4 separate regions of the Homo sapiens genome follow, and all the other regions are linked to region 3. The links come from fine-mapping of genetic effects on gene expression. A gene starts in region 3. Each other region holds a variant in brackets. All regions are shown on one strand. Distances are between the middles of the regions.

Region 1 (7,665 bases), 93 kb after region 3:
CACTCCTTATGTGCCGGGCTGCTTGTCAGTAGCAGAGTAGCCTGCACTAGGTGCTGACCCTTCCCTCTTTTTCTGTTCTTTGGCAATTTCTACCACATAGGCTTTTTGCTGACTCTGGCAAATTTGCATTGTATGTCATTATTGCCCCGGGTTTTCTCGCCACAAACCCATGCTCATCCTGCCGTCCCGATTCCATCTCCGGGTGTCACCTAGATGCGCTTGCTCTGCTTGTACCCACAGGCTTTCACTTTGTGAAAGACGCTTCTGTTTCAGCTCTGTGTCTTGTTACTGATGTCAATGTTGTGGGCTCCACGTTCTCCTGATGCCTCTCCCCCAACCCTCTCTGAGAAGAGAGGGTGTCGTGTGTGTCGTGGAGCCTGCACTTGTCTGGTTGTCTCTTGTCGAACGTGCATCTCTTTTTGCTCTGCAGGTGGCAGGGTAAAGACTTGGAAGAGACGCTGGTTCATTCTGACTGACAACTGCCTTTACTACTTTGAGTATACCACGGTGAGCACCTGCTAGTCGGCCTCCAGACTAGGGATGGGCAAGGCCTCCGGTTCCAAGTGTCTCTAATCAGACATGGTTGAGGAGACCGTTGGATTTGCCCTTCAGTATCTGTGGGGGATGGGGGAGAGTTTAAGCAAAGTGCAAGAACTGAAGTAAATCTCAGAATGGGGAACCCCTGAGAAGAGGTGCGTGCCTTAAAGGGCACGGGCTCAGAGCAGGCACCCGGTTCTGGTGGGACAGGAGATACCTGGCCTGGAGGAGGGGGAGCACTAGAAATGGGTTTTGGAACTGGGCTAGAAAGAATGAATTTGCATTGGTTGCCGAGAAAGAGTATGTGGCCCTAATTGAAAGGGAGATGAAAAGAAAAAGGAAATAATCGTGATTTAGAAAATTCACCTATTCTGGGTTAGCAGAAATGTGATTTCAGAAGAAACAGCCCAAGGGGTAAAATATATAGTGGGGGAAAAGGAAGTGAAGTGAAATGGGAAAAGTCAATTTGAGATTATCTGGAGTTTTAAGAAGTTTTGTTGGTTTTTATTCAGTGGGAGAGACTTATAGCTGCAAATTTGTGTTTTATATACGTATATCTCTTTTGTAATAATAGCCAAAGAAAGTAAAAATCATAAATTAGCTCTTTTCAGAGCTCCCTCTAAGCAAGGTACCCAGAACCCTGGCAAGTTAGCACTTGGTGTGGAGACCGTGGCTCACCGGACTGGTGATGGGGTGCTTTTTCATTTCTGCCACCTTTCTTGGTCATTGTAAGGGCAAAGCGGGCATACTCCCATGGCATCGAACTTTTGTCTTAAAGTAAATCAAGGCCGTTGAGTTGAGAATGCTTTGCTTTTGTTCTCCAAGTGTATCTTCATGGAGCAAAAGTCATTGATCCCACTGAGAAAATTAAGACTCAGAAGTATCTTTTAAAATCAGTTTAGAGCAAAATGGGGCTTAAGTAAAACATTGAAATCCTGACCATATTCACCAGTCACTTATTTAGGACCAAGAAACAGGTACACGCCTTGGCATTTTCTGCTGTGAGGTGTGAAGATGGGTTTCTGTCGTGTCTAACACTTAGCGTTGTTCTCCATCCCCATGGACATCATGCACATGCAGCTTCTCACCCAGGGAATGCACTTCGTAGCCCATCAGGCTGCAGGCAAGAGCCGCTGCTTCTGATGGTTTGGTGACTGAGGATAGTAAATCACTGTGAAGGGAATTCTGGCCGGGATTTCATATGTTGTAGGGGCTCAGCTCATGCCCTGCAAGTTCTGCACTGGCTTTGCTTTTCTGTTGTTATAGTCTTTTCATATGAGAGTAATACACTTCAAATATCTGCAAAATAATAAAAAGAAAGCTGCTTTCTGCTTCACCCCCAAAGTACCACTGTGAACATCTTGGTACAATTTTTTCTGTTTTGTTCACCCTTCTGCCCTATATTTTGCCTTTTTTCTGAAGACACCTACACTAACGATGTCTTTAACATCGTGTCTGAATTTGTCTCGCTATTTTCTGGGTCAAAATGATACATAAGCATCTAAGTGGTGTACTTCTAAGTCCTGGACAATCCTATAGCAATGCTACGAGATTCTAGAATCTTGTGGTTTTTCGTGATGCCCACCGTAGTGGTGTCACCTTAATCCTTAATTCAGCAATATTTATTCAGCAAAGTGTAGCATTTTATCAAGCAATGGAAATACAGAGAAAAATACTTTTTTTTTTTTGAGACGGAGTCTCGCTCTGTCTCCCAGGCTGGAGTGTAGTGGTGGTGTGATCTTAGCTCACTGCAACCTCTGCCTCCTGGGTTCAAGTGATTCTCCCATCTCAGCCTCCTGAGTAGCTGGGACTAGAGGCGTGCGCCACCACATCCGTTTTTTTTTGTTTTGTTTTCTGTTTTTTAAGTAGAGATGGGATGGGGTTTCACCATGTTGGCCAGGCTGGTCTTGAACTCCTGACCTCAGGTGATCTGCACCCAGCAGTAAATACATTTCTTTTTTTTTTTTTTTTTTTTTTTTTTTTTTTTTTTTTTGAGATGGAGTCTCGCTCTGTTGCCCAGGCTGGAGTGCAGTGGCACGATCTCGGCTCACTGCAAGCTCCGCCTCCCGGGCTCACGCCATTCTCCTGCCTCGGCCTCCGGAGTAGCTGGGACTACAGGCGCTGCTGCCACGCCCAGCTAATTTTTTGTATTTTTAGTAGAGACGGGGTTTCACTGTGTTAGTCAGGATGGTCTCGATCTCCTGATCTTGTGATCCGCCCATCTCAGCCTTCCAAAGTGCTGAATACATTTCTTAAGACACAGAGAGGATGCTGTCAGAATTAAGATGGTAGATTGAAACTTCCACACAGAATTACCTAACAGAGCAAAAGACTAGTAAAAAAATAAGTAGGGAAAAATAGCAACCAAGCAGGGGAAGGGGCAGAACGAATTCAGTGCACTGCAGCCCTGGGCAGCAGCGGAAGCAGCGGTGGCAGGGGCAGCAGTCAGGAGCAGTGTGCAGGGTTTCTACCTCACGGCCCAGGATTTGAGGAGACCCGGCAGTCTCGCTGGTTTCTCAGGTCTGGGAGGAGGCAAACTGAACAGGACTTGTTATTTTTTCCTCCCTGATCAAGGAGTAGTAAAATCCCCTGCTGGGTGGACATTGGTGAAATGGGAAAAGTGAAAAAAGCAGCCGTTATAGACATAAGTAAAGGCTCAAGACTGTATATTCACTGGGGAAGACTGTCCATGGAGGGTCTCCCATGAGCATGATATCCATCCCCAAATACAGGGGTCCTCAACCTCAGGCCATAGGACGGTACCAGTCTGTGGCCTGTTACGAGCCAGGCCACACAGCGGGAGGTGAGTGGCAGGCGAGCGGTGGAAGCTTCATCTGTATTTACAGCCAGCTGCTCCCCATCACTCACATCACCTCCTGAGCTCCACATCCTGTCAGATCAGTGGCGGCGTTAGATTCTCATAGGAGCACGAACCCTATTGTAAATTGTATGGGCCAGAGATCTAGGTTGTGCACTCCTCCTGAGAATCTAATGCCTGATGATCTGAGGTGGAGCTGAGGCAGTGATGCTAGTGCTGGGGAGCAGCTGCAAGTACAGATGAATGTTAGCAGAGAGGTTTGACTCCACAGAGACCATAATAATACATCAGTTGCTTGCAGACTCATCAGAACTCTATCAGTGAGTGGCAAGTGACAATTAGCCTGCCTCTGGTGGCAGGCTTTATAGTGGCAAGTGAGCTGATGTACTTCAATTGTACAGCTGTATCTGGTGGCAGGCTTTAAGTCAGAATCCAACACTTATTTCAGTCCGTGCATGGCCTGCCCGTTATTTTATTTACCACTGCCATCCACATCTCTTTCCCACACTGTGTACTTGTCTCAGCCATGGTTTTGGTAAGCCCA[T/C]CCACCAACCCTAGCCAAAATGAGTAAAAACCAAACGTCACTGGAGAGCTTCTTTGAAAAGGGGGAGAGACCCATTGATGAGACAGCAGAACACGCCAAGACTGCCAACAAAAATAAAGCTGCATTGTAAAGAAAACGCCAAGAGTTCTACTCAAATTCTAGGTTCATTTCAACAGGTGATCACATTCGCCAAGCCCACTTTGTAGAATATGTGGTGACCAACTACCCAACAAAGCCATGAAAGCTTCAAAACTGCCTCACCGCATGGAGACCAAGCACCCTGCATCAAAAGACAAGCCTTTGGAGTTTTCAAAAGAAAAAAATGTAAACATCAAGAACAGAAGCAATTATTGAAGGCCACCACTTCATCAAATATGTCTGCGCTGAAAGCATCATTCTTCGTGTCTAACCGCATTGCCAAAGCCAGGACTGGCTGTTGGTGAAGAGTTGATCCTGCCTGCTGCTAAGGACATTTGTCATGCGCTTTTAGGAGAGGCTGTGGTTCAAAAGGTGGCACATGTTGCTCTTTCGGCCAGCACCGTAACTAGGCAGATTGATGAAACAGCAGCAGATATTGAGGCACAATTGTTAGAGAGGATTAACGAGTCACTCTGGTACTCAATCCAGGTTGACGAGTCTACCGATGTTGACAACAAGACAACAATGCTTGTTCTTCTGTGACATATTTTTCAGGGGGATGTTCATGAGGATATGTTATGTGTGCTTTAGTTGCCAACCAACACCACGGCTGCTATTCAAGTCTTTGAATTATTACATATCAGGGAAACTGAACTGTTTTGTTTTGTGGTGTTATATGCATGGATGGAGCGGCTGCCGTGACTGGACAGCTTTCTGGTTTCACTACTCAGGTCAAAGAGGTCACTTCTAAATGTGAGTCTATGCAGTATGTCATCCATAGAGAAGTGCTGGCTAGCCAAAAAGTGTCACCTGAACTTAACAACATTTATGCAGGATGCGATTGAAATTACCAACCACATTAAAGTACATGGCCTAACTCAGGTCTGTTCATGCAGCCCTCGGAGGAGATGGACGCAGAGCACACACGGCTTCTGTGATACACAGAGTGAGACGCTCTCTAAAGGCACATCACTGGCCAGAGTTTCTGAGTTGCAACAGCCACTTCAGAGATTTCTTCTAGAAAAAGTCACCACTAGCAGCACATTTCAGTGACACAGAATATAGGTCAGGAAACTTGTGTACTTGTGTGACAGATTAAACCTACTCACAAACTCAATCTGTCACTTCAGGGGAGAGTGACAAGTGTGTCCCAGTCGGCAGATCAAGTGGCTGCTTTCAAAGCCAAACTGGAATTACAGGGGTGATGAGTGAACACTGGGATTTCTGACATGTTTCAAACATTAGAGAGATTGTGAGAGACGGAGCCAGGGCCTTCTTTGCCCCAGCGCCTCAGCTTTCAGAAGAGCTTGAGCGATACTTCCCAACCACAAAAGAACCTGAACTGGAAAGGAATGGATCTGTGACCCATTTGAGAATAAGCCAGGTGAATCACCTTGGCCAATGCTAGAAGAAGATCAACTGCTTGAGATCGCAAATGACAGTGGCCTTAAAAGTACGTTTGAGACAACTTCAAATCTCCATATGTTCTGGATTAAAGTTGAGGCAGAATATCCTGAGATTGCCCCAAAAGCACTGAAAGCCTGCTTCCACGCCCAACATCCTGTCTTTGTGAAGCAGTGTTTTCTGCAGTGACAGCAGCCAAAGAGTGATTACAGAGTAGACTGGACACAAGCAACACATGTTGGGTGTCACTGTCTCCCATCAGCCCCAGATGGGACTATCTAGTTGCAGGAAAACAAGCTCAGGGCTCCCATTGATTCTACATCATGGTGAGTTGTATAATTATTTCATTATATATTACAGTATAATAACAATAGAAATAAAGTGTACAATAAATGTAATGTAGGCTGGGCGCGGTGGCTCACTCCTGTAATCCCAGCACTTTGGGAGGCCAAGGTGGGCAGATCACCTGAGGTTGGGAGTTCGAGACCAGCCTGACCAACATGGAGAAACCCCGTCTCTACTAAAAATAAAAAATCAGCCAAGTGTGGTGGCACATGCCTGTAATCCCAGCTACCAGGGAGGCTGTGGCAGGAGAATCGCTTGAACCCAGGAGGCGGAGGTTGCGGTGAGCCAAGATCTCGCCATTGCACTCCAGCCTGGGCAACAAAAGCAAAACTGTGCCCCCCAAAATAAAAATAAATAAATTAATTAACTTAAAAAAATGTAATGTGCTCGAATCATCCCGAACCATCTTCCCTCCCCTGCCTTTGTCCGTGGAAAAATTGTCTTCCATGAAACCAGTTCCTGGTACCAAAAAGGCTGGGGACTGCTGCCCAGATAGATGGAGCAAACCCTGACGTTGGATACTTACAATCCGAGAGGAAAGACCAGAACTCGGGGAGTATCTTCGATGAGCTCTCCCACCACTCACCATTCTCTACGAGACTGCATAATATGCTAGAATGCAGAACACCTGGCCGCCCACCACAGGTCAGGGTAAGTGGTTAGGGGGACACAAGCAGATCAGAGATTCACAGGAGGAGAACCAGGGGTCACTCACAGATTTACCAGAGCCAGCTGGAAGGCCAGAAAAGCAAGGTTTCCGTCTTCAAACAAGTGAGAACCCAAGCAATAGCATATACTTACAGTGCAACCATTAATATATAATCATAGAATTATAACTTATTTATTCTTAAAGGTAAGTTAAAACTTTAAGGAGTGGAACAAATTAGCTGAAAATATAATCATGTCCTATAAATATAATGTCTTAAACGCTTGAGCCAATCACAGAGATTATATCTGAAAAAGACAAGTATTAAAACAATGAGAGAAAAGCTAGCAGATGCAGAGAACAGAAGACGATCCCAATAATACCAGAGTAATTGGTGTCTGCAGAATCAAAGATACAGTGTGGCATGAGGTGATTTCCCTGAGAAAGAGGAAAAAGCCCTGAATCTGCAAATCAAAGAAGACACCGTATTTCAGGAAACTGTTACAGAAAGGGTCGCTCCAAAGCCTGGCCCCTTAGACCATTGAACTTGGAGCCAAGTGTCTGGTCGTTCTGTTGGAAAAAGCAGATCATCTCCAGCAGCTTTTAGTCCCAGAAATTAAAGTATCAAGGTCTGCACAGTTTTGAAGAGAAGAATGACCCAAGACCCTTTATCCAGCCACGTTATTGTTTAAGTAAAGCACAGCTGGCCGCACTCTCCTGAAGAAAACATGTGAAATGCGGCACTTTGGAACCTTCTTGAAAAAAAAATTGCTTGACAGTAACATCCAGCACGTAAGAGAATGAATCACAAGAAAGGCCCTGGGAAGTAAAAGACTGGTAGTGAGCATTGAACTATTCATTTAAATACAGAACTAATACTTAAATATACAACTAATACTAAAATATGCTTAAGTTCAGAATACGAAAATATACTTAAGTATGGAACTAATACCAAAATATACTTAAGTATAGAACTAATAGCTAAATATACTCATATAGAAGTAATAGCTAAATAAACTTAAATATAGAGCTAATACTAAAATATGCTTAAATATAAAACAAATACTAATTAACCAGAAATTGTGGCTGCAGGACGTACCATGAATGTTATAAACCTGGACAATGTAAAAGTGAAATAATAAAAATCAGGAGGTGGGAGGAGGAACAATGTGAAGAATTAGAAGATTTTGTACTTTTTAAAATGCAGAGTCAAGAAATATTGTTAAAATGGAA
Region 2 (6,627 bases), 85 kb after region 3:
ACATTAAGGCACTATGAATTTAAATTGTGGTACCTCTGAACTACGAAATACACAGCTATTAAAAACCATGTTTTAGCTGCATGCAGTGGCTCACACTGGTAATGTCAGCACCTTGGGTGGGAGGCCGAGGTGAGAGGATTGCTTGAGGCTAGGAGTTTGAGACCAGCCTGGGCAACATTATGAGACCCTTTCTCCAAAAAAATTTTTAAAAATTAGCCAGGTGTGGTGGCTTATGCCTGTAGTCCCGGCTATTTGTGAGGCTGAGGCAGGAGGATCTCTTGAGCCCAAGAGTTTACGACTACACGCAGTGAGCTATGATTGCACCACAGCACTCCAAGCCTGGGTGACAGAGTGAGACCCTGTCTCAAAACAAAAACTAAAGAAACCCATATTGTTACAAAGAATTTTTATTGACATAGGAGAATGATATTAAGATTAGCAAAAAAGCATGTGTATGTATTTGTTTGTTTCCAGTTTTGTTACAGTATATATCTGTGAGATAAATATGTGGTGAGTTATACATAGTCATATTTACGTAGAGGAAATAAAGCAAAATAAATTATTGCTAGATAGTGGGATTATGGGTCATTACAGGTCATTTTGTTTTAAACACATTGTGTTTTTCAGAGTTTCTACAGTGTGTGTATTCTCCTTTCCAATCTGAAAAAATAAACAGCTTTAAGTCTTGAATACTTTATATACTTTTTCGTGCCTTGCTCCTTTCAGACAGCAGTGTGCCCTGGAGTGTACCCGTACATGTGGATTCATCTCATTCTTTTGAGAACATGTTTTTTTTTTTTTTTCTGAGATGGAGTCTCACTCTGTCGCCCAGGCTGGAGTGCAGTGGCGCTATCTCGGCTCACTGCAAGCTCTGCCTCCCAGGTTCAAGCAATTCTCCTGCCTCGGCCTCCCAAGTTGCTGGGATTACAGGCGCGTGCAGCCACGCCTGGCTAATTTTTGTATTTTAGTAGAGACGGGTTTTCACCATGTGGGTCAGGCTAGGCTTGAACTCCTGACCTCATGATCTGCCTGCCTTGGCCTCCCAAAGTGCAGGGATTACAGGTGTAAGCCACTGCATCTGGCCGAGAACATGGTTTTTTATTCCTGATTTCATCTGATACCACTCTTGCTCTTGCGGGTGGGATGTTTCTGAACATCTGAGCATGCAACGGCTCCCCTTTGCTTTTCTCTCATCTTTAGATACTTGTTACGTCCTCTCCTTTGCCATCATCATGTTGAACACCAGTCTGCACAACCCCAATGTCAAAGATAAGCCCACTGTGGAGAGGTTCATTGCCATGAACCGAGGCATCAATGATGGGGGAGACCTGCCGGAGGAGCTCCTCCGGGTAAGCAAGGAAGAATGGTCTTCATTCAAGTCAAGAAAGAGTTCACTGGGAACAGGATCGTCTTTTGTAGGAAGGAAGAAAAAACATACAATTTATCAAGGGTCTCCTCTTTTAATTTGTTTAACCATGTGAATTTCATTAAGAAAGTGGTAGTAAGGCCCAGCTAGGGAATCAGGGAGGGGACAGTGGTTTGTAAACATGAAACTAAAAGCTTGAATAGAAGTCAGGCTGCTTCTTTATTTTCCTAATTGGGAAGGCTTATTTATTTTGTCACTGTGAGCTGCCTGAAAGCAGAAATGGTCATAATCTTCTAGTCTCAGCATCTAGCAGGCTTGGCTTACTATAGGCACATGAATGCTTGTGGAATGAATGAAGAGAAAGGGGAGGAGGAAAAAATATTTCTAGAATCAGAGACATAAATTGTCATCTTTTATCCCAGAATCTCTATGAGAGCATAAAAAATGAACCCTTTAAAATCCCAGAAGACGACGGGAATGACCTCACTCACACTTTCTTCAATCCAGACCGAGAAGGCTGGCTATTGAAACTCGGTAAGCGCACCTCTGAGTCAGGGCTCCTAAAGCTGAGACTTAGGAAGAAAGGCGGTGTGTGTGCGTGTGTGCGTGCGTGCGTGTGTGCGCGTGTGCGTGTTTGTGCGTGTGCATGTGTGCGCGTGCGTGTGTGTGCACGCGCATGCATGTTCACACACATTCATGGACACACACGCACCATGTAGGAAAGGGGGTGGCTTATAGAGGACTCCAGAGAGACTTTGGTATGAGTTCTGTTCTAACAAAGGTCGGCTTCCAAAAGGGAAGTGACTTCATAGTCATTGCCCCCATGGGACACAGAGACTACTGGGGACAGACTTACTCCACCATAAATATTGCCCACATGTGTCTGTGCTCCACATTTTTACCCTTGAATTGGTTGACCAGGTTTTGTTTCAAGGCAGTTCCCTGAGCACCTGGTCCGTTTGCCTTCCCTGTCCCCATAACCACTGGGAGGGTGGCCGACCTTGTCCATCTTTCTACTTCCCATCCCACAGATTTGTACCTGGCGCTCCTGCCCCCACCCCAGTGCATCGTCACTTCCTTCTGCATCTGGCTCCCCCACAGGCAGTGTGCATGGCAAGCCTAGAGCCCTTGGCTGCAGCTCAATCCACAGCACTCTTACTCATTCTTGGGCAGTGGTTTTTTTTTTTTCTTTTTTTTTTCCCCTCCTTTTCAATCTGAATCAGCCACATTAATTATTTTGTTCATTTAGAAAAGCTGAAAATGCATTTCTCTTCCCTTTGCCAGAAGTGATGAGCTTGTATTGCTGAGATTTGTGGTCATGCCTTGCCGTGAA[G/C]GTGACAGGGTAATCAATAGGAAAGACTTTAGTAGGGTTTTCATACACATTCATGTCCACATGTGTTTACTTTATTAATGGTTTCAGAACATAGAGCTCTAGACTCTCTGGACATAATGATGTCCTTTTTTTTTTTTTTTTTTTGGACACTAGCAGGGTACTTTCCTCTGTTGCCTTCTGCTTTAGCCTTTGATGAGTTGGGTTCTCACATTAGCAGGGGCTGTTCCGTCCTATACCAGCCCAACTGCTTGCCCCAGTGATTAGAAGTCAGTACTCTCTTGGTCATTACTGACACATCTGGGAAGGCTAAAATGGAATCCTTTATTTCTGACTAGGTCAGATAGCAGTAGACTTTATATTTCCTTTTAAAGTCATATCCCAAGTCCTTGTGCTTATACATAATGACTTAATTCATAAATTCCCCTTACAGCACCACTTCACCGATCAGTTTTAAATATCTCTTGAATTGGCCATCATTTTATATATCTTTAAGCCCCCAGAATCTTTGAAGTTAAGGCTCTAAAATTACTAACCCCATAGGCAGCCTTCCCTTCCACATTCCTATTGCCAAGTGGATGGAGTTGAAAGGAAACCTACTGGAAACGTTTAAAGTGTGTTCAAGTTTGGATTTACTTCCCCCTACAGCGAGATTTGTTTAAATGCTAATACTAAGTGTTAGCTTTGACAGCCCAGATACTAAAATTAGAACAGTACAAAGATTATCTTGGTTCTTAGACCAGGATGACATGCAAATTCATGAGGCATCTCGTATTTTAAAAAAGAGAAAATTTAACCAAGTGTGGGACTCAGTTTTAGCTCATTGCATTACTTTTTCTAAACCTCCATCAAATCCTTCTAGACTCTGAATATTGTGTTTTCATTGTAGCACACTTAGTATCACTCTTTGTGTTTATGTGCTGCAGAAGGCAGGGCTTCCAGCCGTCTGTAGCTGTGTGTATATGTCTGTGTATGCATATAGCCATAAGAATGTGTATTCTTGTGTATACACATCAGTACATGTGTACTCATGGGTATATGTGTGTGCATTCTTACACACACTTTAAAAAGTGACAGCCATCTCAAGAAAGACATTTAATTTTCCCTGAAATAACCTTAGCTTTCTTTGCTCTGATTCTGGATATACTAGTAAACATTGGCTTTGTAAAAGCCGATTTGTGGCATCTTTGGGGCCAGGTTTCCAGTAGTGCCTCAAATCTTGCCTTGATGAGGTGGAACGTGGCATGTAAGAGCCCCTCGTTCACGTGCCAGACAGTAGTGGGATCATTTGCCCGTTGAGTGTTTTTAGTTCAGCTCTCTCCCCAGGCAGGCATGAATGTGACTGATACATTGCACTTTAAGATTAAGGAATCGGGTTTAATTTCTTTGTTTTAATTTTCTTTTCTCCCTCATTTGTATGTTTCCATGATTTTGGCTCTCCTTTTCCTTGCCCCAAACTCCAGGAGGTATGTAACCCTCAGCCTGCTCGCTCGCTCTGCTAGGCCACTGTCATTACTGCAGCATTTTCTGATTTCGTTATTTTTGGTTATTTTGTTTTTTAATTGCCGGTGGTAGTGTTAATGCTGCTTCTAACTTATTGTACAGTCCCTAGGGAACTGGTCAGGATCAGGGGTTTGGAGCAATTTTCGTTTTTCTTTTTTGGAGGAGTATATGTTATATTCATTACTGAATGCAGTAATGCAAGAAAACATACTAAGAGTGGGTTTGTAAAAGCAGAGGAAGTTTCCATGACATTTTCACTTGGAATTATTGGCTAAGACATGCGCTATGTTTGATATTCAATTTGACGTCCATTAATCAGCCTGATTGAAAGTTAATCTCTGACGTGGGGAAGAGGAGAAAGAAGAGAAGGAAGTCTTTCTTTTTTCTTCTTTTTTCAAGCTGAGACTTACTCCAGAGAGAACAAAGTCTTGACTTCCCAAAGCTATGGAAAGCTTCTGATTTACCATGATGGAAAAGCAAACTAGGGAAAGAACTAAATTAGATGATACTTAAGACATTTGCCTTTGCACGAAAAGGGGAAATGGTATTTCCTAAACTCAAAATGATACCGAGTGAAGGTGAAAAAAACAAGTCCAAACCAAAAAACCCTCCCTGAAGTCCTCGTGTTTAGTTTCCTGGGGATCAGAGAAGGGTATTAACAGCCTCGGCTCTGTTGTTATGTTTTGTTTTGCTCCCTCGCTTTTTCAGCGAGTCCTCGTTAAAGCCCCGAATCGGTCTCCTGGTTATGGTTTTGGTGTCTCCTCTCCATTTGCTGGTTTTTTTGGGGAAACATATTTTCTTAGCCCAAGACCCCTCAGGTTTGTGCCTAAGCATTCCCTGAGCAGTAGCTACACTTAAAAAGAACAACCCCAAACACGCACAGTTACTGAGATGCTTCAGGGACTTGTCAGGTTGTTCTCAACTGTAGGGGAAGATGGCATCCGGCCTTGATGTCTCGGGGAGGTCACAGGAGGCCTGAGGAGCCGTGCAGTGGGAGGTGGTCCTGTGAGTTCCACAGGGACTGTCCTAGGCGCACATTGATCTGTCTGCTTGTTTCATGTCTGCTTTTCTTTCCACGTGGAAATGTTCCCCGTGGGCCCACAGTGATGCTTTATGGTAGAGGTCTCTGTAATGCAACAAATTGTCCAGGCATAATAACCAAGCTTTTGTAATCAGGCAGAGAATTTCTTCTGGCTTTGCTTTTTCTCCTTGATTTCTTTCCATCTTGTTTCTTTTAGCATCTGACTCGCTTTTTCCATGATCTCCTATGTCCGAAGGGTTCCCCGGGTAGTGTCCTGTGATGGAGCGCATGGGAGGTCAGCATGGGTTGATGTTCCCTTTGTGCCGAGCCTCCGTGGGCAACCAATGGCCCGCCAGGCTGGAAGACCAAAGTTCTCAGACTCTGAATTGGTGGAGGGGGTTCCTTTTTAAGAACAAATTGGCTTCAATCCTGAATATAGTCCTTGCCTTCTTTATCCTCCTTATTTAATTCTGCCCGGGCTTTCCTGTTTTCCACATGCATGTCATAGTATCCATTTATGGTTTTCTCTTAATTCATGCCATCTAACCTTTAGGGACCAGTGGCAAGGGCTCACATGAAACTTAGAAGTTACTGGAGGGAGAGTCTCAATTTGCTTGATATAGCACAGGATGGGCAGGTGGAGGGCACGTGCTTGCTTACAGCAAATTCCCTCGCATAACCTAGATCTGTGTCATTTGGAATCTTGGCAATTAATGATCAGTCACGTAAGCCCGCCTAGGGTTCAGCATCCAAGCAGGGTGCTAAAAACTGGCCTGAAAGTCCAGTGGTCCTTTTACTTGTCTGCCAGGACCTACGCTGGACATTTTCTTTTCATAACATTATTTGCATACTCCCCTTAGGTTTCTCTGGTGTGAGCATGCAGGCAGGTCCTGGCAGTTAGAATAATCCCTGTAAAACCATTCTCCTCTTTGCTCAGCTATTTGTGATGAGGGCAAGAGAGAAAGCATGATCGGAGGTATGAGATTTATGCCCCATGATCCTTGCTATTTAGGAAGATTGGAGAAGCGGTATTGTCTGTAGGTTAAGTCTTAGCAAAAGAGCAGGCACAAGAAGTGTTTCTAGAATGCCATGCATAGCTTCACAGGTCAAGGCCTTAGGGATAAGTTTTGAGTGGTTCATGTTCAGAAAATGTTCCCTTGATGGGAGAGAGGTGGAGGAAGAGAAAGCCTGTGGTCCCGATTTGACAGCAGGTGTAGCTTCATTCAGATAGGCTTGGGGAAATTTTTCCTTCCTTCATGTCTGTCTCAGCATAACTTCACGGCCCCAACCCCAACTTTTTTTTTTTTCTTTTTTTTTTCTTTTTTTTTGAGAGGGAGTCTCCCTGTGTCACCCAGGCGGGAGTGCAGTGGTGCAATCTTGGCTCACTGCAACCTCCACCTCCCAGTT
Region 3 (7,665 bases):
CTTTGGGAGACTAAGGTGGGTGGATCACTTGAGCCCAGGATTTCACAACCAGCCTGGACAACATGGAAAGACCCTGTCTCTAAAATAAATAAATAAATAAAATATTAGCTGGGTGTGGTGGCGTGCAACTGTAGTCCCAGCTACTTGGGAGGCTGAAGTGGGAAGATCGATGGAGTCTGGGAGGTGGAGTCTGCAGTGAGCCATGAGCCACTGCACTCCAGCCTGGCCAACAGAGTGAGACCCTGTCTCAAAAACAAAACCAAACCAAAAACTGTCAAATACCGCAGGGAGCTACCAACTTAAAAAAATTAGTTGTCAAGTGGATCAACCACTAAGGACTTAGAAACCACAGCGAAACTTGCAGAGAGCCCACACCCAGTTTAAAGGTTCTGTGAAGAATTAGTGGATGTGGGGGAAGAGGTCTGGGTTAGAATCCACAGCTGGAGTGGAGTCCTGTGGTTCCTGTCTCCCTGCCGCCGGCTCCTTCTCATTACGCTCCAAGGGCTGGGGGCACAAATACAAGATACGAGAGTGAAACTGACTTAACTCCTGCTTGCAAGTAGGCTGCATTTGGATGTCTATTAGCCTCGGCTTCCAAATGTCATGCAAAGATAACAGCTAAAGGACCTCTCTGGCTGGGCGCAGTGGCTCACGCCTGTAATCCCAGTGCTTTGAGAGGCAGAGGTGGGCGGATCACCTGAGGTCAGGATGTCAAGACCAGCCTGGCCAACATGGCGAAACCCTGTCTCTACTAAAAACACAAAAATTAGCTGGGCTTGGTGGCACATGGTGGTAATCCCAGCTACGTGGAGGCTGCAGTGAGCCGAGATGTGCAACTGCACTCCAGCCTGGATGACACAGTAAGACCCTATCTCAAAAAAAAAAAAAAAAATCTCTGATCATGAATGTGATCTAATGGAGTAGCTTCTGTGTTTCTTTGACAGTCATCCATGGTCAGGGATAGCCCTACCCAGTGGACACATGCATGCATTCATTTGCAACCAGAACAAACACTGTCTCTGTATTATGTGTGATAGACTACAATTTTTTAAAAATTCTATTTTCTTTTCATCTAATAAGTATTTGTTTCATAACCATTAAGAGTCATGACCCGCTGTTTGAAAAACACTGTTCTTTTTTTTTTTTTTGGAAACAGGGTCTCACTCTGTCCCCCAGGCTGGAGCACAGTGGTGCAATCATAGCTTACTGAAGCCTCAACTTCCCAGGCCCAGAGGATCCCTCCCACTTCAGCTTCCAGAGTGGCTAGGACTACAGGCGTGTGCCGCTATGCTCGACAATTTTTAATTTTTTGTAGAGACAGGGTCTCTCTATGTTACTCGCGCTGGTCTTGAACTCCTGCCCTGAAGCAGTTTTCCTAGCTTGGCCTCCCAAAGTACTGGGGTTATAGGCATGAACCACTTCACCCAGCTGAAAAACACCAGTCTAATGGAACAATATAAGGGAACAGAATTTGTAAACAGTCATGTTCTCTGCTAATCTGTGATTAGCAGTAATACCAGTATCCCTCCCTCTCCAAATCTATTCAGTTGGTGAGTTCAGCTAAGAGGTCTAGAGTGCTGATAGTAAGAATTAACATGCCATCTGAATCGCTTTTCTTCTGGAGTTCTGGTCTTTGAGCAAGAGCTGAGGTGGTCTGGGACTTGCATACTGATAAGGGAAGAAAGCCAGCTCGAAGATACCTTGAACCTTCTGGTGAGTCTGGGGTTAGAAGTGAAGTAGGGAGTGAAACAGAGGATGGCAAATACTGGGGGAGAGGCTCAGTGCTCCATTAGCCCATGTGACAGATGGTTTGAGAAGATTTGCCAGGTCAATGTGGGGTCAATTCTAAAAGTGTCCTAAGTCTAGGCCAAGAGGAACAAAATGCAGCTGGGTCTCTGACCTCACACGCCGAAGCCCAAGGACACGTTAGGGCCAAAATGTGACTCTCTAAGGTCACCTGTAAAACTGGACAATCTGGTAAAGTCAGTGAAGGTTAAGATCATGAATCCAGCCAGGCGTGGTGGCTCACGCCTGTAATTCCAGTACTTTGGGAGGCCAAGGAAGGAGACCAAAGAGAAAGGATCACTTGAGCCTAGGAGTTCGAGACCAGCCTGGGCAACCTAGCAACCTCCGTCTCTACAAAAAATACAAAAATTAACCAGGTATGGTGGCCGGTGCCTGCAGTCTCAGCTACTCAGGAGGCTGAGGTGGGAGAACTGCTTGAGCCTGGGAAGCAGAGGTTGCAGGGAGTCATGATGGTGCCACCGTACTCTAGCCTGAGCAACACAGCGAGTGAGACTCTGTCTCAAAATGAATAAATAAATAAAAGAAAAAGAAAAATAGTAAAACTCAGGACAGGTGGGCCCACAAGGAAAGAGTTCTGTGGCTTTTACTCCCGTTTTTTGGTTGGTCCAAAAAATTCCCAGCAGTCCAGGGATCTCTGTGGAGTTCTCAGTGAGTGTTCTGTGTAGGGTGCAGGAGCCACAAGTGACTGCAGGGGGAAAGGGGGGTTCTGGTGCTGGCATTCTGCAGCAGTGGGATTGTCCTCTGTCATAAAGAAAGAGAAGGCCGAGCGCGGTGGCTCATACCTGTAATCCCAGCACTTTGGGAGGCCGAGGCAGGCGGATTATTTGAGGTCAGGAGTTCGAGACCAGCCTGGCCAACATGGCGAAACCCCGTCTCTACTAAAAATACAATTAGTCGGGCCTGGTGGCACATGCCTGTAATCACAGCTACTCAGGAGGCTGAGGCAGGACAATCGCTTGAACCCGGGAGGCGGAGGTTTCAGTGAGCCGAGATCGGGCCACTGCACTCCAGCCTGGGCAACAAGAGCGAAACTCGTCTCCAATAAATAAATAAAATCCAAAACGCTGGGACTTGAAGTGCCCTCCTTTCAATCTTGACCCAGGTAAAACTCAGGACAAATAAAAAGAAGTAGAAGCAGTAAACTTAGGACATACAGCATGTAAAGGTTCTGAACGCAGGAGTAAATGACTTCAAATAGCTTTTGTGGCCTTTCGCCAAGGACCGGGCCCTCCCTGGCAAGCTGGGGCCGGGTCTGACCTTCCAGGTTGGCGTCAGCAAGGACCACCCTGCCCTTCAGTGGCCGGACACGACCTTGGGCTTTCGTGCAGTAGCCTGGCTGCAGGCCAGGTCGAGTCCGCCACCCCGGGGACTTGCACCGCCCTTCAGAAACCGAAACCTGCTCGGCCCCAGGAGGCGGACCGGGAGAAGGGGGGGGGGTGTGTGTGTCTCGGGACGGGGGCGTGGTCTAGAGGCGGGGGCAGGGGAGGAGCCTCGGGTGGACGCGCGTGCGCAGGCCGGAGCCTCGGGAGGAGGCCGGGTACCCGGGGTGCGGCGCGCGCGGGAGGAAGGCGGGGCCTCGGGCGAGGGGCGGGGCCTCGGGCCGGGGGCAGGGGGCGGGCGCAGGCGCAGGCGCGGGCGGGCGGGGCGCGGGGCGCGGGGCGCCGGGGGCGGGGCTCCGAGCCGGGCTGAGGCGAGCGGGGGCGCGGGTGGCGCGGCGGGACGCGAGCGGCGAGCCGGAGCGCGGAGCCCGGCTCCCGCACCATGGAGGAGGACGACAGCTACGGTCAGTGCGCCCCGGCGGCGGACGCTTCCCCCTCGCTGTCCCCCAGTCCCCTCCGGGCCCGGCCGTCCGGCAGCGCTTGCGGCGGCTGGCGTTTCCCGGGGACACTGGTGCGGGACGCGGAGCCCGGGGCGACCGGCGGGCGAGCGGTGCGCGGGGCCCTCGCGGGGCGGGGGTCGCAGGGGGTTTTGAGGGATGAGGGTCGCCGGGGCCGGGGTCGCTGGCGGCGCTGAGGGATGTGGGTGGCTGGGGCGGGGGTCACAGGCCGGGCTCGCGGTCTCGCGGGGCCAGGGGTCGCCGCGAGCTCTGAGGAATGAGGGTCGTTGGGGTCGCGGGGCAGGATCTCAGGGGCTCTGAGGGATGAGAGTCGTTGGGGTCGCTGGGGTCCCCGGGGCAGGGGTCGCAGTCCGGGTCCCGGGGGGCCGAGGGGTGGAGGTCGCTGGCCCTGCCGCCCCTCTGCGGGGCTCGGGGCGGACGCGCGGATGGCCGGGCCCGCGTTCCCCGCAGTTTCCGGCCGCTCTCGGCGTCAGCGAGTTGTGCCCGGTCCACGTCTTTGTTCAGAAATGAGAACGGGGAGCGGCGCCGCCGGCGAGGCGCGGGCTCCGGGACGGCCCTGCCCGCGGGAGTCTGGGCCCGGTAGCCGCCGGTCCGGTGCGTCGCCGCCTGCCGAGACGCGGGTGTGGAGCCCGAGGGGCACCGCGGTGGGGACGCCGCTCCTCCCCTGACTGGGGACTTGGCAAGCGGAGCCGCTGTCCCGCTCCCTTCGCTCCCGCGCGTTGAGGCTGCTGGCCCAGGCCAGGGGTGCCTCCCTCCAAGAGTTTGAAATTGCAAGGGTTGCAAAAGGTTGTTTGACATGCTGTAGTTAATTTATTAAGTTTGTTCATGAGGAATTAAAAGGAAGAATGGCAAATAGAACAAGTGGTGAACTTTTGTGGTTTGGTAGCAAAGTACAAATAAAGCAGAACTCTGTGGCCAAATGGAACCCAATTCTAGTTTAATAACTAATGGGACATTTTTCTTTTTTTTTTTTTTTTAAGAGACGAGATCTCGCTCTGTCACCCAGGCTGGAGCACAGTGGCGTGATCGTAGCTCACGTCAGCCTCTTGAGTGGCTGGAACCATACGCACGCCACCATGCCCGGCTAATTTTTTATTTTATTTTATTTTATTATTTTATTTTATTTTATTTTATTTTTGAAACGGAGTCTCACTCTGTCGCCCAGGCTGTAGTGCAGTGGCGCCATCTCGGCTCACTGCAACCTCGGCCTCCTGGGTGAGCTGAGCGATTCTCCTGCCTCAGGCTCCTGAGTAGCTGGGACTACAGGCGCGTGCCACCACGCCTGTCTAATTGTTGTATTTTTAGTAGAGACAGGGTTTTGCCATGTTGGCCAGGCTGGTCTTGAACTTCTGACCTCAGGTGATCCACCCGCCTCGGCCTCCCAAAGTGCTGGGATTACAGGCATGAGCCACCGCGCCCAGCCCTAATTTTTTACTTTTTTAAAAGATGGGGTCTTGCCATGTTACCCAGGCTGGTCTTGAACTCCTAGACCCAAGCAGTCCTCCCACCTCTGCCTCGCACAGTGTTGGGATTACAGGCCTGAGCCACCACACCCAGCCCACTTGTTACCTTATAAGTAAACAAGTAAAAGCAGCTTGTGCATTTTTTTGTTGTTTGTTTTGTTGTGTTTTTGAGACAGGGTCTAGCTCTCTTGCGCAGGCTGGAGTGCAGGGGCGCTCTCATAGCTCACTGCACGCTCTGCTTCCTTGGCTCAAGCAATCCTCTCACCTCTCTTCTCAGCCCCTCCTGTAACCTGGACTACAGGCCTGGGCTACCACGCCCTGCTAATTATTTTTATTTCTTTTTGTAGAGAGGGAGGTCTCCCTATGTTGCCTAGGCTGGTGTGAACTCCAGTTCCTATCTTGGCCTCCCAAAGTGTTGGGATTACAGGCATGAGCCACTGCTCCCAGCCTCCTTTTGTGATTAAAAGAAAAATCACCCACTGGCTGGCCCCAAAAGATTGTTCAGCCCCTCCAGATTTCACTCCTGCCCACTGCTGAGAAGCCGACAGCAGTTTTGCCTGCTGCTCTTTTCTCTGCCTCCTCTTGCCATTTAATTTCCCTCAGATCCCAGTGTCCTGCCTACCAGGCTTTTGTGGCCTCTCTTGTGTTCTTGCCTGCTGCCGTGGGCAGGAAGCTATTGGTCTGGTTGCTTTTAATACAGTGACTGCTTTGCCACCAGGCATGACATGAACTTGTACTTGAAAGAGGTAAGTGGAAGCAGGGCGTGTTAGTTTCCTATACCTGTTATATTACCACAAGCCTGGTGGCTCAAAACAACATAACATTTGTTTTAGGGTTCTGCTGTCAGAAGTCCAAAATAGGTCTCACTGGGCTAAAGCCAAGGTGTCGGACAGGCTGGTTCTTTCTGGAGGCTCAGGGGAGAACCCATTTCCTTACCTTTTCCAGCTTCTAGAGGCCACCTGTGTTCCATGGTTCATAGTCCCCTTTCCATCTTCAAAGCCAGCAGGTAGCATCTTCTCATTTCTCTCGACCTCCTACCTCCCTCTTATTAAGATCCTTGTGATTATAGTGGGACCCACCTGGATAATCAAGGCTAAGGATTAGCAACCTTAATTCCATCTGTTACCTTAATTCCCCTTCTGCCATGTAAGGTAACCTATTCACAAGTTCTGGGGATTAGTACCCGGACTTCTTTAGGGGCTGTTATTCTGTCTGCCACACACGAAGATGAGAAAGTTTGTAAGTTTATTCTTCCCCTTTCTTTTTTTTTTTTTTTTTTTTTTTGAGATGGAGTTTCACTCTTGTTGCCCAGGCTGGAGTGCAATGGCGCAATCTCGGCTCACTGCAACCTCTGCCTCCCAGCTTCAAGCGATTCTCCTGCCTCAGCCTCCTGAGTAGCTGGGATTACAGGCATGCGCCACCACGCCTGGCTAATTTTGTATTTTTAGTAGAGACAGGGTTTCTCTGTGTTGTCCAGGCTGGTCTCAAACTCTTGACCTCAGGTGATCTGCCTGCCTAAGCCTCCCAAAGTGCTGGGATTACAGGCATGAACCACCCCGCCTGGCCTGTTCCCCTTTCTACAGTTTTAAATATCATCCTTTTATTTTGGAGGAACTAAAAAGATTGAAGATTCCCCACCCAGAGGGTCACCACACAAAAAGTACCTGATGGTGTAAGATGATCATATGAAGAATAAGACTCCCAAGTTCTTTAAGGTTTGTGTTAGTCTCCAGAACTGTCCATTTCCCTCATAGGTTTCACAGAGAATTTACCTTGACCAGATCCCACATTGTAAAAGGAAATGTGTGTGATGGATTCATAAAGCATATAACATGACGTGTTCAGACGTCACCTCAGAACTTCCATTGTTTTCTTTTAAACAAACTTTTTATTATTATTATTTTTTAAATAGTTGCAGAGTCTCACTATGTTGCGCAGGCTGGTCTAAAACCATCCTCCCGCCTTGGCCTCTGAAAGTGTTGGGTTGAGTCACTGTGCCAGGCCTAATTAAACTTTTTCTTTCTTTTTTTTTTTTTTTTTTTTTTTTGAGATGGAGTCTCACTGTGTTGCCCAGGCTGGAATGCAGTGACGCAATCTTGGTTCACTGCAACCTCTGCCTGCTGGGTTCAAGTGATTCTTCTGCCTCAGCCTCCCAAGTAGCTGGGATTACAGGCACCTGCCACCACACCCGGCTGATTTTTGTGTTTTTAGTAGAAATGGGGTTTCACCATATTGGCCAGGCTGGTCTTAAACTCCTGACCTCAAGTGATCCACCTGCCTTGGCCTCCCAAAGTGCTGGGATTACAGGCGTGAGCCACCACGCCCGGCCCTAAATAAACTTTTTAAACCTTAATTTTTTTTCCCTTTTTTTTTTTTTTTTTTTTTTTGAGACAGTCTTGTTCTGTCACCCAGGCTGGAGTGTGGTGGCACAGTCTTAGCTCCCTGCAGCTTCCACCTCCTGGGTTCATGCGATTCTCCCTCAGCTTTCTGAGTAGGGGTTACTACAGGCACATGCTATCATGTCTGGCTAATTTTTGTATTTTTAGTAAAGATGGGGTT
Region 4 (7,665 bases), 110 kb after region 3:
GGGTTTTCTTCCTCTTCCCCAGACTCCAGTCCTCGTTCTAGAGGAAGGAGTAGGACTTCCCCGATCCCCGTAGGGCTTCAGCTTTTTCTGCCTCAAAACCAGCCCTAACTGGACTACTCTGGATGCATTTTGTGGTGGGCCCCCTAGAGGGGAAGATGGGCCTTTATCTGCTCCGTGGGGTGCACTGGAGTGAGGGGGGTGGCCGGGCTGCCTCTCGCATCTCTGTCTTCCCCTGCAGGCGCTGTGTGAGCTGGCCCTGCCCCTCCTCATTACAGTATGAAGGGAGCCGTGACACGCAGCATTTTCCTGCCGTTCTCTCAGGGACTCTCAGGGCAGCTCCTGCCACTCCGCCAGGGCCAGCATGCCAGTCCAGGCAGAGCAGGTGGCTGGCTGTCTGGCCGTCTCGCCCCGCCCCTCCACAGGACCCTGGACCAGGGCGGTGCAGGGCGCAGCCCTGAGGAGGCAGGTGGAGGAGCTGCGGGTTTTCACAGGGCCGCGTCGCCACGGCTCCTCTGATCCTTTAGGGTTGGCGAGCATCTCTGGAAATAGCTTTTGCAGAGGAGTGGTGGGAGGAATAGAGGGGGACAGTCTGTCACCTCCCTCCCCGCCACTTTGTGTAGATCCTACCTGGAGGGAATGGCTTTAGGCACTTTTGTGCCAGAGCTTGTGAGGGTGACAGAAGAGGGTCCAGGCTGGAAACCTGAACTTTCTGGGTGGGAGAACCAGGTGGTGCCTGCCGAGGTCTGGGCGTGTTTGGGCCGGTGCTGGAGCCTGTCCAGCTGGCCCGGGCCCTGGCCTGGTTCTCAAGTGTTTCCTAGACAGAGAGGCACCTGGGTCAGTATTAGTCTATTTATCAGAGGTGTAAATAATCTATGTATAGTTTTTCTCCTTTTAGATTATTTTGTATTTGTTTAAAAGAAGTTTTGTCAAAATACAAAAATATAAAGAAATGACTGAAAGTTGTTGACAGGGTTTTTAAGAAATAATTATTCTAATTGTTTTTGTTTGTTTGTTTTTGCCTTGTAAACTAGCGCCAAGGAACTGCAGCAAATAAACTCCAACTCTGCCCAAGCCATCTTTGTTGTTCGCGGTGTCTCTGGGCTCAGGCGGGGCCCTCGAGGTGGGAAAGGGGTGCTGACCGGACACTTGTGCAGGAGGGTGTTACTCCAGCTGCACCTTGAGTTCAGTTGTAACACCTTGAAAGTGGGAGGAGGGTTCTGTCTTCTGTTAAGAAGAGCAGAGTCAGAAAAGATAAGTAACTTAGTCTTTGCACCGCCCCCACTTTTTTAGAAGAAACGTGAAACATCAGTTTTAAATTAAGATCAAGAAATATGCCTTCAGTCAATATAATACATTTTTAGTATGATTTCAGTTTCCAGAGATGACTTCATAATGCCAGGGAATAAACAGGGAAAAGTCTCAGGTGGGCTAGAACCCAGAAGCAGGGGAAGGCGCTTGGTGAACCAGCACCGAACAGAGAGACAGCAAAGCACCAGGCTGGCCCCTTCTGTGGGTCCATCTCCACGGGCTGGTCCGCGTTCTTCCACACAGCAGCAGTCATGCCTGATGTTTCCTCCTTGCTTCAAGCCCCCAGTCTACCCTGACCATTCCCCAGGTGACTGCCCCACTTTACTGAGAAGAGACGACCATTAGGTGTGAAGGGCAGCATTCCTACCTTTCCACATCAGTCAGAGTTGTTTTTGTTCCCTCCCATCGCCAGAAGAAGTGGCCTGCTTTTTTCCTGTCTCCCCTGGATCCATCTCTGTCAATTATCCTTTGTCTTATACATATCCCCAGTTTCTTTCCCCATTAATTTCTTTCCCTCAAACCACAGAAACGCCCATCTCATTTGAAAACTCCCTAAGCTCAGGAACAAGACAGAGATGTCCACTCTTACCACTTCTATTCAGCATTGTACTGGAGGTTCTAGTCAGGGCAATTAGGCAAGAAATGAAAGGCATCCAGATAGGAAAGAAGAGAGATTACATTTATTGGCTGGTAACATGACTTCATAATGCCTAGCTGAGCCATGGGAACGGGGCCACTCCCAAGGCTCCAGAACTGTGGGACCACCAGCTTGCCGCCCCAGCCGGGAGAGCTGTATGTAGGCACTAGATGCCATCCTGTGACAGCTGCGGCATGGGCAGAACCCAGCACAGGGTGGGGCTGCTCCTGGCCTTGGGGGATCACATTAAGATGAGTCAGAGATCATTCTGGAGTCTTAAGATTTAATGTCTGCCCTATTGGGTTTCAGACTTACTTGGGATTGGTTATTCTTTCCTTCTTGCCCTTTTTTCCCTTTTGGAATGGGAATGTCTATCTCATGCCTGTCCCCCAGTGTATTTTGGAAGTGCATAACTTGTTAAATTTCGAGGCTCTCAGCTGGAGGGGATTTGCCTCAGGATGAATTGTTCCTTGAGTCTCACTCATATCTGATCTAGAGGAGACTCTGGACTTTGGACTTTTGAATTGGTGCTGGAGCAAGTTAGGACTTTTGGGGCAGTCGGGATGGAATGAATGCGTTTTGTACTGAGACTGGCGAGTGTGGGGGAACCAGTGGCAGAAAGCTACAGTGTGAATATCTGTTCCCTCCAAAACTCATGTTGAAATGTAACTGCCATTGTTACAGTATGAAAAGGTAGGACCTTTAAGAGGTGTTTAGCTGAACTAAGGAAAAATCCTGCAATAGTAATACATCCACGAAGTTATTAAAACGCCAATAAAATCCATTTGAGAACAGTTCATCACCCCAAAGCACACCCTGTCTACTCATCAGCAGCCTCTCCTCCTCTTCCCCTGGTCCCGGGCAGTCCTAATGGTTCTGTCTATGCACTTGCCTCTTCTGGGCATTTCATACAAATGGAATCATACACTACATGGGCCTTCGCGTTTGGCTTCTTTCACTTAGCGTTACGTTTACACGACTCATCCCTGTAGCGTGTGTCAGAGCCTCATTCCCCTTTATGCCCAGATAACATTCATCGTATGGAGACCACGTTGTTATTCATTCATCTATGGGCGTTTGGGTTGCTTCCGCCTCTTGGCTGTTAGGAGGCCTGCTGCTGCTGCCTTTCTCTGCAGTTGTTTGTGTGGTTGCAGGACTGTAGAAAGTAAAAAGTTTCCTCTTCAAAGTTTCCCTTCTTATTAAAGAATAAATCATAAGTGTTAGAAATAATAGTTTCTTTTAAAGACTAACTTCCTTCAAGCCTCCTTGCTTTGTGCTAATAACTCTTTGTTAAGCCCTATCCTAGGTAGCTGTTAGACATGCTCAAGGCACGTAGTACATTCCATGTCCTTGTACCTTAACCAAGATATCTGTGCTCACGTGCTCATAGGCATGTTCCAGCTCACAGCCTATGCTCCTTCCTTATTTGAGAATAAATTATTAGCCAATCGGGTTTTAATTTAGATTGTGAGGTCCGGCTCCAGCCAATGGAGACAGGACACAGCAATAGAGGCCTCATGCATATAGAATGGATATTCTGGCGTCTCTTTATTCTGTGTGTGCCCTCCCCATTGTTCCATCTGCAAGGGACACCCTTTCTGCAGAAAGTAAAAATTGCCTCGCTGAGAGAACTTTTTGTCTGAATGCTAATTTTTCCTTGTGACACCAGGGAACAAACATTTTGCATTGCTAACAGGGACTCCGACAGTTCCTCGTTGCATCTATGTCCTCACTTTCGTTCACTCCTCAGCCAGGGGTCCCCCTCCTCTCTCCTCTTGGCTCTGGTGGATTAGTCTACCTGGGCTCTCCTACCTCTCTGACAGCTCCCTGTGCGTTCTTTCCCTGGCCTCTCCTCTCTGCCCACCCGCCAGCTGCTGGACATCCCCCAGGATTCTAGCCCCCAGTGTTCCTAAGCCCTCTTCCTTGACAGATAATCAGTCCCGCGACTGACCCTGCTGCTACCCGCTGTGGGCCCCTATGTGTGCCTGTGCAATTCCGGCCCGTTCCAGGCTCCCCTTTCCACCTCTGACTGCTTGTGGGACGTCTCCACCAGAGTGGCTGCCGGGCCTCCCCAGCTCAGCCTGTCCACAGCTGATAGCCCCAAGACTGCCCCTTGTCCTGGGGACTCTGCTGCCACCCTCAGAGAGCCTGTGTAGGCTTGGAGCCCTTTCTCATGTGTCTCCCCCTCTCTCCCTACACCCAGGCATTCCCAAGCCCTCCCTGTGGACCTCTGGAGTGGCTCCTCCAGCCACTGTCGCCGCCCCAAGACCTTCATCACAGGCCTGGCCCG[C/T]GGGGGTGGCTTCCCCACTGGTCTGCGGACCTCTAGGCTTTGCCATCTTCTACTCCGTGATTGATGCGGCTGTGGAATTTTCATCTACTGATCATGTCATTCCTCCATTTAGTAAAACAAGCAAACAGAACCTGTCCCTTTGCTTGCAGAAGAGAACGTGAATCTGCATGATGCTCAAGGCCTTCTCCACCAGGCTCTGTTCGCCTTATCTCTAGCTGTTTCTATCCTTAACTGCGCCCTCCCTGCCCTGTGTCCCAAGCTCTTGCTCCACAGCCACCGTTTAATAGCTAATAGCTTTGCTCATGAGACTTCCTTTTGCCATCTCCTCTGCCAGCCTGTTTGTGCAAAACCTTCTCATTCTTCGAAGCCTTGCGCCGTCCAGATTGGCCCAGCTTTTTCCCCAGGCTGAAGGGCCTCCTCGTGCTCCTGAGCAGTGAGTCCACTCGGTTCTGGGATGGCTTATGCGGACGTGCCTGTCTCCATGGTTGTGTTGGGAGCAGGAGCCGTGAGGCGTTTGTTCCCTGCTTCTAACCTGATGGAGCAGGTCCCATGCGCCCAGCGCTGGGCTTCATGCCTGTCAGTGCGCGTGAGGCTGCACGTCACAGAGAGCTCACCTAGTGGGGACATGACTCATGAGGACACAAATAAGAACAGGAAGTCCCAAATGTGCGCTCCAGGTTGTTCGGCTGCCCTGGGATGTAACCCGGAGCTTTCCTCCTCCTCCGCTCTCCTGGAACACTCATATTGACCCGGTCGTGGCACAGTTAGAAGGAGGGGATACCATATCCTCACACAGTGGCACTCAGAAGGAGGAGCAGGGAGCGAGGGGCAGCCAGGGCCCCCCATGCTTGCCTCCCTTCATCAAGGAGGAAGTGTCTTTCCCCGGATTCCCTGCAGACGTGTCCTTACGTTTCAGCATCACCCTGGGTCTCGTCTCCACCTCTCAGCCAATCCTCCGCTTAGGCCCATTTGATGCCTCACTGGGGCTGGGCACACATCCTGCAGACACAGTTGGGGTACCGTGGGCCGGACGCCGGCAAGCAGAGGGTGGAGAATGGATGCTAGGTCGGCAGAAAGGCTGTGGCCGCCAAAGGTGGAGACTGGGAGCAGTGAGAACCCGTGTCTGGCGCTCAGAGTCTGGGTAGAGCAGACATGAGAAAATTGAGTGAAGTGATCCCGGGGTGTGGGGGGCTAACCCCAGGAGCAAACAGGTGGGCGGCTATTGGAAAGAGCAAGCGGAGGAGGTAACTTGAACGGGCTGATGAGGGAAGGCCCCACTGAGAAGAGGTTGCTGAGCTGAAGAGGAGGCCACCAGGCAAGGGCCCGGGGCGCCGCTTAGAGTAGGGTAGCTAGTGGTGGGGTGGAGGGATCCTGAAGGAATTGCTGGGATGGGCTGGCTAAGGCCTGGGGTGGCAGGGGATGCAGAGGAGAGGTCAGCAGGGGCCAGATGGAGCGGGACCAGGGCCATGGTAGGGGACGTCTGAGGTGGCGTGGAGCTTGGGGGCTGGAGAGGGACTCTGGCTGCTGGAGGGAGAATTGTTGGGGGAGGACAGTGCCAGCACGAGGCTGTGACATGACTCAGTTGGGGGTGATGGGGATTGTACTGGGACAACCGTGAGAGAGGTGTAGGGGACAATTAAAAATTCATGATGTGCCTTCGAGGGAGGGGCAGCAGAACTTGGAGGTAGAAATGGAGGGAGAAGGAGAAATCAGGATGAGTCCTAAGTGTTGGGCCTGGGCAGCCGACAAGGACAGACTTGGGCTGGAAATCCAGGTTCTCTTCTGGAGGTGTCAAGAAGAGGATGACTCTTATAATGGCCGGCAGGTGGGGAGCTGGCTGGTCACATTGGGAGCTCTGCAGAAAGATGAGTGACCACCTACTGGTCACATGTGGCTTCCCAATGGTCCACCTGGGGAAGGGCTTGTGGTTCATGGCCTCAGTAAAACTTGTTTAGTCCTAAACGGGTCATGTTAAGAATTCCTTTGTTATTTTTCATGCTTTAAGGCCCAGGAAAGGCCTGGGCAAAACTCTTGGCAGGCTTTTGTTACATCCCAGCCTTTGTATAAGGGGGCCAGCTCTCTCAGCTTTTATTTTTGTTTTAATTTTTTTTGAGATGGAGTCTCACTCTGTCGCCAGGCTGGAGCGCAGTGGCATGATCTTGGCTCACTGCAACCTCCACCTCCCGGGTTCAAGTGATTCTCCTGCCTCAGCCTCCCAAGTAGCTGGGAATACAGGTACGTGGCACCATGCCCAGCTAATTTTTGTATTTTTAGTACAGACGGGGTTTCAGCATGTTGGCCAGGGTGGTCTCGATCTCTTGACCTCGTGAACCGCCCGCCTCGGCCTTCTAAGTGCTAGGATTACAGGCGTGAGCCACCGTGCCCGGCCGGCTTTTAATATTTAACTTCACCACGTGGTCAGTGCTGAAACAGTTGTTATGGAGGCCTGCGTTAGTGAGCCTGGCCTGCCACAAACCCACAAACATCTACCAGTGTGATCTACACCGTTAACAGAATGAAGGAGAAAACGGGGTGATCATCTCCATCGATGCAGGAAAAGCATTGGACGAAATGAAACTCCACCAGGAAATACACCCAACGGGGCAGGCGCAGAAGGAACCCTTTCAACACAAGCAAGGCCTACTGCGGGACACACTTGAGACAGTATCGTCCCCTCCTTCCCAGGCCCCAAAGAAGGACTGGGGCAAGTCCAGCCTGGTGAGTAGCAGAGTTGATGGGGACCCGCACACAGGGCACTGCCGGACAGCAGCAGGACAGCTCGAGAGATCCACGCCGCCCCCATCTCTAGGCTGCTTTTACGCTGATTTTCTGGCTCTTTGCCTACTGTGTGTGTGTGCCATGGGACTTTTCCTTGGCGGGTTCTCAGATCCTCTCTGGGCTGTGTGGGTTCTCAGGGACACCTACTCCTTGGCTGGGCACCGTGGCGTGGACTCACCATGTGGCCTTCAGGGTTCAGGCAGCAGACATATGCCCTTAAGTAACCTGGTGGAGGACCTGTCACAGTACAAGGCCATCTATGAAAACACCACAGCCAACCTCATACTCAACGGAGAGAGATTGGAAGCTTTTCCTCTAAGATCAGGATCAAGACAAGGATGCCTGCTTTTGCCACTTCTCCTCAACATGGTCCTGGATGTTCTAGCCAGGGCAATTAGGCAAGAAAAAGAAGGTCTCCAAGTTGGAAAGGAAAAAGTAAAATGATCTCTGTTTGCCATGCCATGATTTTACATATACACACACACACACACACACACACACACACACACATATATACACACACACACCCCCACACACACACCCCCCACACACACATATATATATGTAAAACCCTAAAGATTCTACACACACACAAAAAAACGGGGAGGTAATAAGTGGATTTGGCAAAGCTGCAGGATACAAACTCCACGCA

Which allele goes with the higher level. Positions count from the first base shown, and alleles are read on the strand shown. Sizes are in standard deviations (SD) of each study's normalised expression. Not every link is listed here.
In carriers of allele T in region 1, the expression in monocytes after LPS of the gene that starts at base 3,518 in region 3 tends to be higher than with C alone (moderate effect, 0.61 SD a copy in Fairfax 2014).

Evidence for each region. PIP is the estimated chance that this variant, and not a neighbour inherited with it, causes the effect. A credible set is the group of variants that fine-mapping cannot tell apart.
Region 1: its variant is the best candidate, but not a certain one, in a credible set for the expression of CYTH1 in monocytes after LPS (Fairfax 2014, PIP 0.62).
Region 2: its variant is the best candidate, but not a certain one, in a credible set for the expression of CYTH1 in whole blood (INTERVAL, PIP 0.61).
Region 4: its variant is the best candidate, but not a certain one, in a credible set for the expression of CYTH1 in cerebellar hemisphere (GTEx, PIP 0.57).

Annotation. Positions count from the first base shown.
Region 1 is chr17:78,685,259-78,692,923 of GRCh38, reverse strand. It overlaps CYTH1 (cytohesin 1), which reads left to right. Exons shown (of 14, transcript NM_004762.6): 11 at 431-507. Among named protein-coding and RNA genes, the nearest start is that of SCAT1, 57 kb to the right of the region's middle. The variant T/C (reference allele first, on the strand shown) is at 3,900.
Region 2 is chr17:78,693,542-78,700,168 of GRCh38, reverse strand. It overlaps CYTH1 (cytohesin 1), which reads left to right. Exons shown (of 14, transcript NM_004762.6): 8 at 1,201-1,349; 9 at 1,789-1,900; 10 at 4,160-4,162. It also overlaps the pseudogene RNU6-638P. Among named protein-coding and RNA genes, the nearest start is that of SCAT1, 65 kb to the right of the region's middle. The variant G/C (reference allele first, on the strand shown) is at 2,700.
Region 3 is chr17:78,778,126-78,785,790 of GRCh38, reverse strand. It overlaps CYTH1 (cytohesin 1), which reads left to right and starts at 3,518. Exons shown (of 14, transcript NM_004762.6): 1 at 3,518-3,589. The coding sequence starts at 3,568. RefSeq lists a cis regulatory region at 314-733, silencers at 3,259-3,418, 3,459-3,738, 3,999-4,398 and an enhancer at 5,417-5,516.
Region 4 is chr17:78,667,458-78,675,122 of GRCh38, reverse strand. It overlaps CYTH1 (cytohesin 1), which reads left to right. Exons shown (of 14, transcript NM_004762.6): 14 at 1-1,075. Among named protein-coding and RNA genes, the nearest start is that of SCAT1, 39 kb to the right of the region's middle. RefSeq lists enhancers at 1-64, 6,398-7,007, 7,008-7,618, 7,619-7,665. The variant C/T (reference allele first, on the strand shown) is at 4,236.